Linked DNA regions of Homo sapiens: region 1 is linked to region 2. Evidence: fine-mapped expression QTL. A gene starts in region 2. The other region holds a variant in brackets. All regions are shown on one strand. Distances are between the middles of the regions.

The links. PIP is the estimated chance that this variant, and not a neighbour inherited with it, causes the effect.
Region 1: its variant is the best candidate, but not a certain one, in a credible set for the expression of AP2S1 in monocytes after interferon gamma (Fairfax 2014, PIP 0.63).

Annotation. Positions count from the first base shown.
Region 1 is chr19:46,936,953-46,941,340 of GRCh38, reverse strand. It overlaps ARHGAP35 (Rho GTPase activating protein 35), which reads right to left. Exons shown (of 7, transcript NM_004491.5): 3 at 3,933-4,077. Among named protein-coding and RNA genes, the nearest start is that of ARHGAP35, 78 kb to the right of the region's middle. The variant AAATAAATG/G (reference allele first, on the strand shown) is at 1,961.
Region 2 is chr19:46,848,872-46,853,259 of GRCh38, reverse strand. AP2S1 (adaptor related protein complex 2 subunit sigma 1) reads left to right here and starts at 2,414. Exons shown (of 5, transcript NM_004069.6): 1 at 2,414-2,496. The coding sequence starts at 2,494. RefSeq lists an enhancer at 2,090-2,399.

The DNA of each region.
Region 1 (4,388 bases), 88 kb before region 2:
GGTGAAATTTGGCTGAGAAGAACTACCAGGGAGGTTAAATTCAAAGTGCTATTAGGAGTAGGAGTCTCTTGAAGAATAAGGATAAGTTCCACAGGCAAAAAGGAATGGGGGACAAATTTTAAACCACACAAGGGGAATGCCCTAAGGCAAAGAAATACTAAGAAATTCTGCTTGGTTCACATCCTTCTGATAAATCGCATTCTTGTAGAACAATTTTAAAATTAATACTTGAAGCAGCATAAAACAGAAAGAAAGGGGTGAAAGAAGGGAGTGGGAGAGGGAAAAAAAAGGAGGGTGGGAAGGAGGGCAGGGGACAATGGCATAGTAACAGTCTTGCTGTTCCTGAGTCCGGGAAGGAGGATTATGAGTGCGACCTGCATCTGGTAGGCAACAAAGAAGCAAGGATGGGTTTTCAGCAGATAAACTGTCATACCCATAGACTGGACTGAGAAGGTGGGTGATGGTGGGCAGCAGAGATGAAGTGGAGGGGACAGAGCAAAGGCATTGCTGCCCTGTGGTATCTGCCAGAAGTGCAAACCCAGAACTTGATCACGATGAAATATCCAAAAAACTAAAACAAAGCCAAGGCCGGGCACAGTGGCTCACGCCTGTAATGCCAGCACTTTGGGAGGTCGAGGCTTGTGGATAGCTTGAGCTCAGGAGTTTGAGACCAGCCTGGGAAACACAGAAACCCCATCTCTACCAAAAATACAAAAAATTAAAAAAAAAAAAAAAAGGGAAAACAAAGCTAAGCTGAGGAACACCCTACAAAATAACTGATTGGTGATTTTATTTTTTTGGTTTTTTGGTTTTTGAGATGGAGTCTAGCTCTGTCGCCAGGCTGGAGTGCAGTGGCGTGATCTCGGCTCATTCCAACCACTGCCTTCTGGGTTCAAACGATTCTCCTGCCTCAGCTTCCCGAGTAGCTGGGACTACAGGTGCGTGCCACCATGCCCAGCTAATTTTTTTTTTTTTTTTTTTGAGACACAGTTTTGCTCTTGTTGGCCAGGCTGGAGTGCAATGGTGCGATCTTGGCTCACCGCAACCTCCGCCTCCCAGGTTCAAGCGATTCTCCTGCTTCAGCCTCCCGACTAGCTAGGATTACAGGCATGCACCACCAAGCCTGGCTAATTTTATATTTTTAGTAGAGACTGGGTTTCTCCATGTTGGTCAGGCTGGTATCGAATTCCTGATCTTCCGCCTCAGCCTCTCAAAGTACTGGAACTACAAGCGTGAGCCACCGCCCCGGCCTAATTTTTTGTATTTTTAGTAGAGACGGGGTTTCACCATGTTGGCCAGGATGGTCTCGATCTCTTGACCTCATGATCTGCTTGCCTCGGCCTCCCAAAGTGCTGGGACTACAGTCGTGAGCCACTGTGCTGGGCCAGATTTGACCACTAAATGTAACGTGTGGTCCAGGATAAGGTCCTGGACCAAAACAGTGTTTTGTCTGTTGCTATAAAGGAAGGTAGTGGGAAAACTGATGAAATGAGAATGTCTATAGATTAGATTACAGACAGATTAGTACTAGATCAATGTTGATTTCCTAATTTTGATAAATGCACAGTGGTTCTATAAGAGAATGTTTTTGGGAAATACCCACTGAAGTATTTAAAAGTAAAGGTGCAGGCCGGGCATGGTGGCTCACGCCTGTAATCCCAGCACTTTGGGAGGCCAAGGCGGGTGGATTGCTTGAGGTCAGGAGTTTGAGACGAGCCTGGCCAACATGGTGAAACTCCATCTCTACTAAAAATACAAAAAAAATTAGCCAGGTGTGGTGGTGCATGCCGGTAATCCTAGCTACTCAGGAGCCTGAGGTGGGAGGATTGCTTGAACCCAGGAGGCAGAGGTTGCAGTGAGTCTAGATCGTGCCACTGCACTCCAGCCTGGGTGACAGAGTTAGACTCCATCTAAAAAAATTAAATAATAAATAAATAAATAAATAAATAAATAAATAAAT[AAATAAATG/G]TAAAGGTGCATATCACACCTGCAACTTTCAAACATTTTATAGAGACAGATAAAGGAGGAAATTAATATAAAACGAGTGTCAAAAAGATGGACACTGAAGCCAGGCATGGTAGCTCACGCCTGTAATCCCAGGACTTTAGGAGGCCAAGGTAGGAGGATCATTTGAAGCTAGGATTGTGAGACTAGCCTGGGCAATAAGTGAGACCCCTGTGTCTACAGCAGGAAAAAAAAAAGATGGACAATGAGAAACCGCTTTGGGTACAGAATGGACTAAACAAAGCTATAGATCTGTAATGATTATGCCAAGTGCTTATTACTGAGATTCAAGCCTGGGGGGAATTATTTCTCTGGTTTCCACAGAAAACCTAGGAAATAAATACAAAGTCTTTGGTGGGCTCCAACTTAAAAACTATCTTCAGGCCAGGCGCAGTGGCTCATGCCTGTAATCCCAGCACTTTGGCAGGCTGAGGTGGGCGGATCACGAGGTCAGGAGTTTGAGACAGCCTGACCAATGTGGTGAAACCCTATCTCTATTAAAAATACAAAAATTAGCCGGGCATGGTGGTGTGCACCTGTAATCCCAGCTACTCAGGAGGCTGAGGCAGGAGAATCACTTGAACCTGGGAGGCAGAGGTTGCAGTGAGCCAAGATCATGCCACTGCACTCCAGCTTGGCAACAGAGAGAGACTCCATCTCAAAAAAAAAAAAAATGCTATCTTCGGCTGGGCACCGTAACTCATGCCTGTAATCCCAGCACTTTGGGAGGCCGAGGCGGGCAGATCACCTGAGGTCAGGAGTTCAAGAACAGCCTGGCCAACATGGCAAAAACCCGTCTCTACTAAAAATACAAAAATTAGTTGGGCGTCATGGCGGGCGCCTGTAATCCCAGCTACTCAGAGGCTGAAGCAGGAGAATCGCTTGAACCTGGGAGGCGGAGGTTGCAGTGAGTTGAGATCGTGTCACTGCACTCCAGCCTGGGCAACAGAGTGAGACTCTATTTCAAAAAATAAAAATAAAAATAAAAATAAAATAATAAATAAAGCCATCTTCCCTGCTTTACAACATCCTAAGTAAATATGAACACTGTCACTCAGCTTCACACGATGCTGCTGAAATTATCAGCAGAGCCTAGTAGGCTGTCCACACCACACAATACTTAATACCACTGTAGATAATATCAGAGTTAGAAAGAACAGATTGGAAGGCTGTAATCCCTACCTTAGTTTCAAATTAGTTTAAGCCTGTGTTCCTGAGCCCAACTCCGAATGCTCAAGAACCCACCTTAGTGAAACTGGAAGGCCAAAGGGACACATGAGAGCTCAAATGAATAAAGCAAATGGTTTCAACACAAGTAAAACTTAATTATTTCAAGAACAATGCAAAAAAATTTCCCAAGACAGTCTACCTTTGTGATAGCATCAAGTTGTCAGAGGAGCGGCATAACCAGAAGATATCCCAAACATCCTAATCATTTTCTTACCTCAGAAAAAAATCCTATCAATACATGGGTCTCAGGCATCCGAACAATGCTGAGGGCTGTATTAATTTTACTAAACCAAAATGTATTATGTATCCACTATAGTACTGAGGACACAATGATAGCACAACCCTCAAGGAGTTCACAGATCTGCAGGGAACACAGGCGGGCAGGCAACTGACAGAGTGCTGATGCTCTGGTGGGTGAGGTAGCACAGAGAAAGCGCCCAAGCAGCCATAGCTGCCACCTTGAGCACAGAACAGCTCCTTCGTAGGCCAAGGCCTAATAAATGCCCAACGACAGCCTCAAAACTGCACACAAATGGAGAATCTACACATCTGACAACTGTTGGGACTGCTCAGCTCCTTCTCCAAGAGCATCTCACAATCAACAACAACTGATTCCAGAATCTCCAGATGGCTTGACCCTCCAGTAAGCATCCTGTAGACAGTGAAAGTTATAAACTGCTATGAGGTAATACTCTTACCTGTGGCTTCAATGTACTCAATACATCTTTCAATAAAAATGGGGATCGGCTTCTCTGGAGTCACGACAGTTGTTAAGGGCACCCCAAAATAGTTACTCTCCCAGGTTGCCTTTGTGATGGATGGCCGGGGTTTGGGCTTTGGTTTCTGTCCAGGAAAGAGAAAGGGAAGCACAAAAACAAAGTGAGTATCAACATGTAACTTAAACATCAGTAAGGCTTCCAGAAGGGAAGCAGTGGTATAAAAACTGCTAGAAAGAATGTCAAGAAGTGGCTGGATACGGTGACTCATGCCTGTATTCCCAGCACTTTGGGAGGCCGAGGCGGGTGGATCACCTCAGGTCAGGAGTTTGAGACCAGCTTGGCCAACATGGTGAAACCGTGTCTCTACTAAAAACACAAAAATTAGCCAGGCGTAGTGGTGGGCGCCTGTAATCCCAGCTACTTGGGAGGCTGAGG
Region 2 (4,388 bases):
TGCAAATGCATTCATTCATTCAGCAAATGTTTATTGAACACCAGAGTTGTGCCAAGTATTAAGTTGAACACTGGAGATCAGGACTGGGACTAAGGGGAGGCAAGTGACGTGTTGAGGGCACAAAATTTAATGAGGCACATATTCTCAGTCCTGTGTAAGACAGGAATTGGCATCTAAGAGTGAGGTCCTTTTAAAATTTTGCAACCTGGACACTTTGCTTGTGTCATCCTAGTATCAACCCTGTTGGAGACAGAAAAGTACACAAGACAGAAATGATCTCTGGCCTCTTTTTGCCCCTATAATATTCAACAACTATGTGTTGGTTATTCTGCCAGTACTATACCTTAAATTTACATAATTCTACAATACATTTTGTTTTATTTATTTAATTTATTATTATTATTTCTTTGAAATGGAGTCTCTCTCTCTCTCTGTCCCCCAGGCTGGAGTGCAGTGGCACGATCTCGGCTCACTGCAACCTCCATCTCCAGGGTTCAAGTGCTTCTCCTGCCTCAGCCTCCCAAGTAGCTGGTATTACAGGCAAGTGCTACCAAGCCCGGCCAATTTTTGTATTTTTATTAGAGGTGCTGTTTCGCCACGTTGGGCAGGCTGGTCTCGAACTCCTGACCTCAGGTGATCTGCCTGCCTTGGCATTCCAAAGTGCTGAGATTACTGGAGTGAGCCACCATGCCTGGCATGCTTTGTTCTTATTAGGGCCAATCTCCCCTCAGTACTAATAGTAATAACTTTATTGACTGCTTACCATCTGTCATGTTCTAGGTAATGAAGATACAGTTATCAGACAGGGTCCCTGCCCTCAACAACTCACTACCTAATGAGAGATCTAGACAAACATACACACATACTCATAGGGCAAATAAAATAATTTTTAAAATGTAATAAAGGCCATTTAAAAAATCACGCCTGTAATCTCAATACTTTGGGAGGTGGAGGAGGGAGGATCGCTTGAGCTCAGGAGTTCAAGAGCAGCCTAGGCAACATAGCAAGACCCTGTCTCTACAAAAAGTACAAAAAATTAGCCAGGTGTGACGGCATGTGTATGTAGTCTCAGCTACTCGGGAGGCTGAAGTGGGAGGATCACTTGAGCCCAGCAGGTTGAGGCTTCAGTGAGCTGAGATCATGCCACTGCGCTACAGCCTGGGTGACCAAGGGAGACCCTCTTTCAGAAAAAAGCAAAAACAAAGACACACCAAAAAAACACTAAACTAACTGCTGACCTGGAGGGTTTTTTTTTTTTTTGACAGAGTTTCGCTCTTGTCATTCCAGCTAGGGTGCAATGGTGTGATCTCGGCTCACTGCAACCTCTGCCTCCCAGGTTCAAGCAATTCTCCTGCCTCAGCTTCCCGAGTTGCTGGGATTACAGGCACCTGCCATCACACCCAGCTAATTTTTATATTTTTAGTAGAAATGGTTTCACCGTGTTGGCCATGCTGGTCTCGAAGTCCTGACCTTAGGTGATCCACCCACCTCAGCTTCTCAAAGTGCTGGGATTACAAGCATGGGCCATCATGCCCCCGCCAAACTAGAGATTTTTTTTTTTTTTTGGAGTCTCTCTCTATTGCCCAGGCTGGAGTGCAGTGGCGAGATCTGGGCTCACTGCAACCTCTGCCTCCGGGCTTCAAGTGATTCTCCTGCCTCAGCCTCCCGAGTAGCTGGGACTACAGGTGCGCACCACCATGCCTGGCTAATTTTTTGTATTTTTAGTAGAGATGGGGTTTCGCCATGCTGGCTAGGCTGGTCTCGAACTCCTAACCAAGTGATCTGCCTGCCTCGGACTCCCAAAGTGCTGGGATTACAGGAGTAAGCCACCGCGCCGGGCCGGTTCAAATTTATGCTTTTAAACTGTTGTCTCCCGAGAGACACACGCAACGTATTTTAAGCAAAACACTGGCTTGGTGTTGTGGTGGCTCATGCCTGTAATCCTGGTGATTTGGAAGGCTGAGGGTCGCTTGAAGCTGAGTTCGAGATCAACCTAGGCAATATATCTAGACCCCTGTCTCTATTTTTAAAAAAATTAAAGAAATCACTGGATGAGGAATGGAAAGACATTTTCTATCTCCCCAGGACAGTTTTTTAAAATTTAAAACTACTATTCCCAGCATGCCCTTCTCCCCTGGGTGGGGGGAGGGGACCTAAGAGAACTACATTTCCCTGAATGCAACGCCTTCACCGCTGGTTCTTCAGCATCTCGGGAATTGTAGTCCTCTGTAAAGATGTTTGTCCACAAATCCCAGCATGCACTTGGGATCTGACTCGTTTGGTAGGAAAAGGACTGGCTCTGACTCTTCACCCATCTTCACCCAGGCTGGCCCCTTTGGTGAAACTACAACTCCCAGGGGTCTGTGCGCGAGAAGGCAGGCGGGTTTTTCTACCGGAAGTCCGCTCTAGCTCTGGGCCCTACAACTGCACCCTGAGCCGGAGCTGCCCAGTCGCCGCGGGACCGGGGCCGCTGGGGTCTGGACGGGGGTCGCCATGGTAACGGGGGAGCGCTACGCCGGGGACTGGCGGAGGGGGGGCCCACGCGTAAATAGCCGAGGCTGGATCGGGCGCTGACAAGTCCCTTCTCTGCCGCGGATGGTCTGGGTCAGGCGCGGGCTCTGGGGATTGGGACCGATCCAGGGCCGGGAAGGAGGGCACAGGGCGGTGATTCTGCGCGCGGGGGTTACCAGGGGTCTCGCGGCGACGGGCATTGGGGGTGGTGTTCCAAGGGGAAAGGGCTGTGCAGGTGGGAAACGTTGTAGATGGTTGGAAGCTTTGAAACGAGAGGAAACTCGTGAGACACAGTCTTGTGGGTAGCGAGAAGGCATTGGAGGTGGGGAGAGGGCGTCCGAAAGAGGAAGGCGCTCTGGAAGTGTGGCGGGAGCGCTGGGACGAGAACGCGAGACCTTGGAAAAGGGGAGGGAGGTTTTCTTGATGGGAGGAGTCTCTAGAGACAAGGATCTGATTGCAGGTGGAGAGGGGATGTTGAGACAGGGGCAGGAGACTGCCTGTGAGAGAGGGATGATCTCAAGAAGAGACCTGGCACAGGAAACCAAAAGGAGGCAACTGTAGGGAATGAAACTTAAGGGTCTGGGAAAGCGCTGTAAAAGGAGAGAGGACCTGGAGGTAAGATGGACACTCGGAAAGAATGGGGAGCAACTGAATAGGTCTTTCCAAGAGGAGAGATCTTGTGGGGTGGGGAGTAGGCTTGAAAGTGTGAGACCTGGGGAGGAATCTTTGTTGGGGCAAAGACTCAACATTGGATTTAGGAGTGCCCCTATCCCCCAGGTTGGGGCTTTGGATCTAGGAAAGGGTTCTTTGGGCTGGAAGTTGGGAAAGAAAACGAATGAGAAAGAGTGTCAGAGCGGGGGCGGAGTCTCCTCCAGGAACAGGGTCCTTGGAGGCAAAATGTGACCTTTTGAAGAAGGGAGGAAGCTTGGGAGTGGGACAAGGGATGTCACCAGTAAAAAGCCCATTGAGGCCCCAAGGAGGGGAACTGAGACTGAGAAAGTGGAGGTCAAAAGGGAACAACTCCAGAGGAGGGGGATTGGAGACAGGGAAGGTTGGGGGGCATCTAGAGGGGACAGCAGAGGCGTGAGGATGCAGAGATTCAGGACGGAGGGGACTTGAGATTCCAAATGGGAAGAAAACAGGGAGAGGTATACAAGGGAATTTGGGAGTAAGAGGCAGAGCTTTTTGTCAACTCTGTGGGTTTGCTTCTAGTTCTCCTAACTGTGTGAATATGTCTCCGGCTCTGCTCCCAGGCTGTGGCTGCCTGGTGTAGGCCCCCCAACGTCCCTTCCTGCCTGGGACCCCTGCCCTGCTAGGAAGTGGTTTTCCCTGGCTCAGCAGGAGTTCTTGGAAGGAGAGTGTAACATCCTGTTCCGGTCCAGTTTGGTTGGTTGGGGGAGGGAGGATAGAGTGTGTGGAGAATGAGGCTTAGGAAAGACTCTCAGGCTGGGGCGGTGACTCATGCCTGTAATCCCAGCACTTTGGGAGGCTGAGGCAGGCGGATCACATAAGGTCAGGAGTTCGAGACCAGCCTGGCCAACGTGGTGAGACCCCGTCTCTACTAAAAATACAAAAATAAGCCAGGTGTGGTGGTGGATGCCTGTAATCCCAGCTACTTGGGAGGCTGAGGCAGGAGAATCGCTTGAACCCGGGAGGCAGAGGCTGCAGTGAGCCGAGATTGTGCCACTGGCCTAGGCGACAGAGTGAGACTCTGTCTCAAAAAAAAAAAAAAAAAAAAGGCTGGGCACAGTGACTCGCGCCTGTAACCCCAGCACTTTGGGAGGCTGAGGCAGGCAGATCACAAGGTCAGGAGTTCGAGACCAGCCTGACCAACATGGTGAAACCCTGTCTCTACTAAAAATACAAAAATTAGCCGG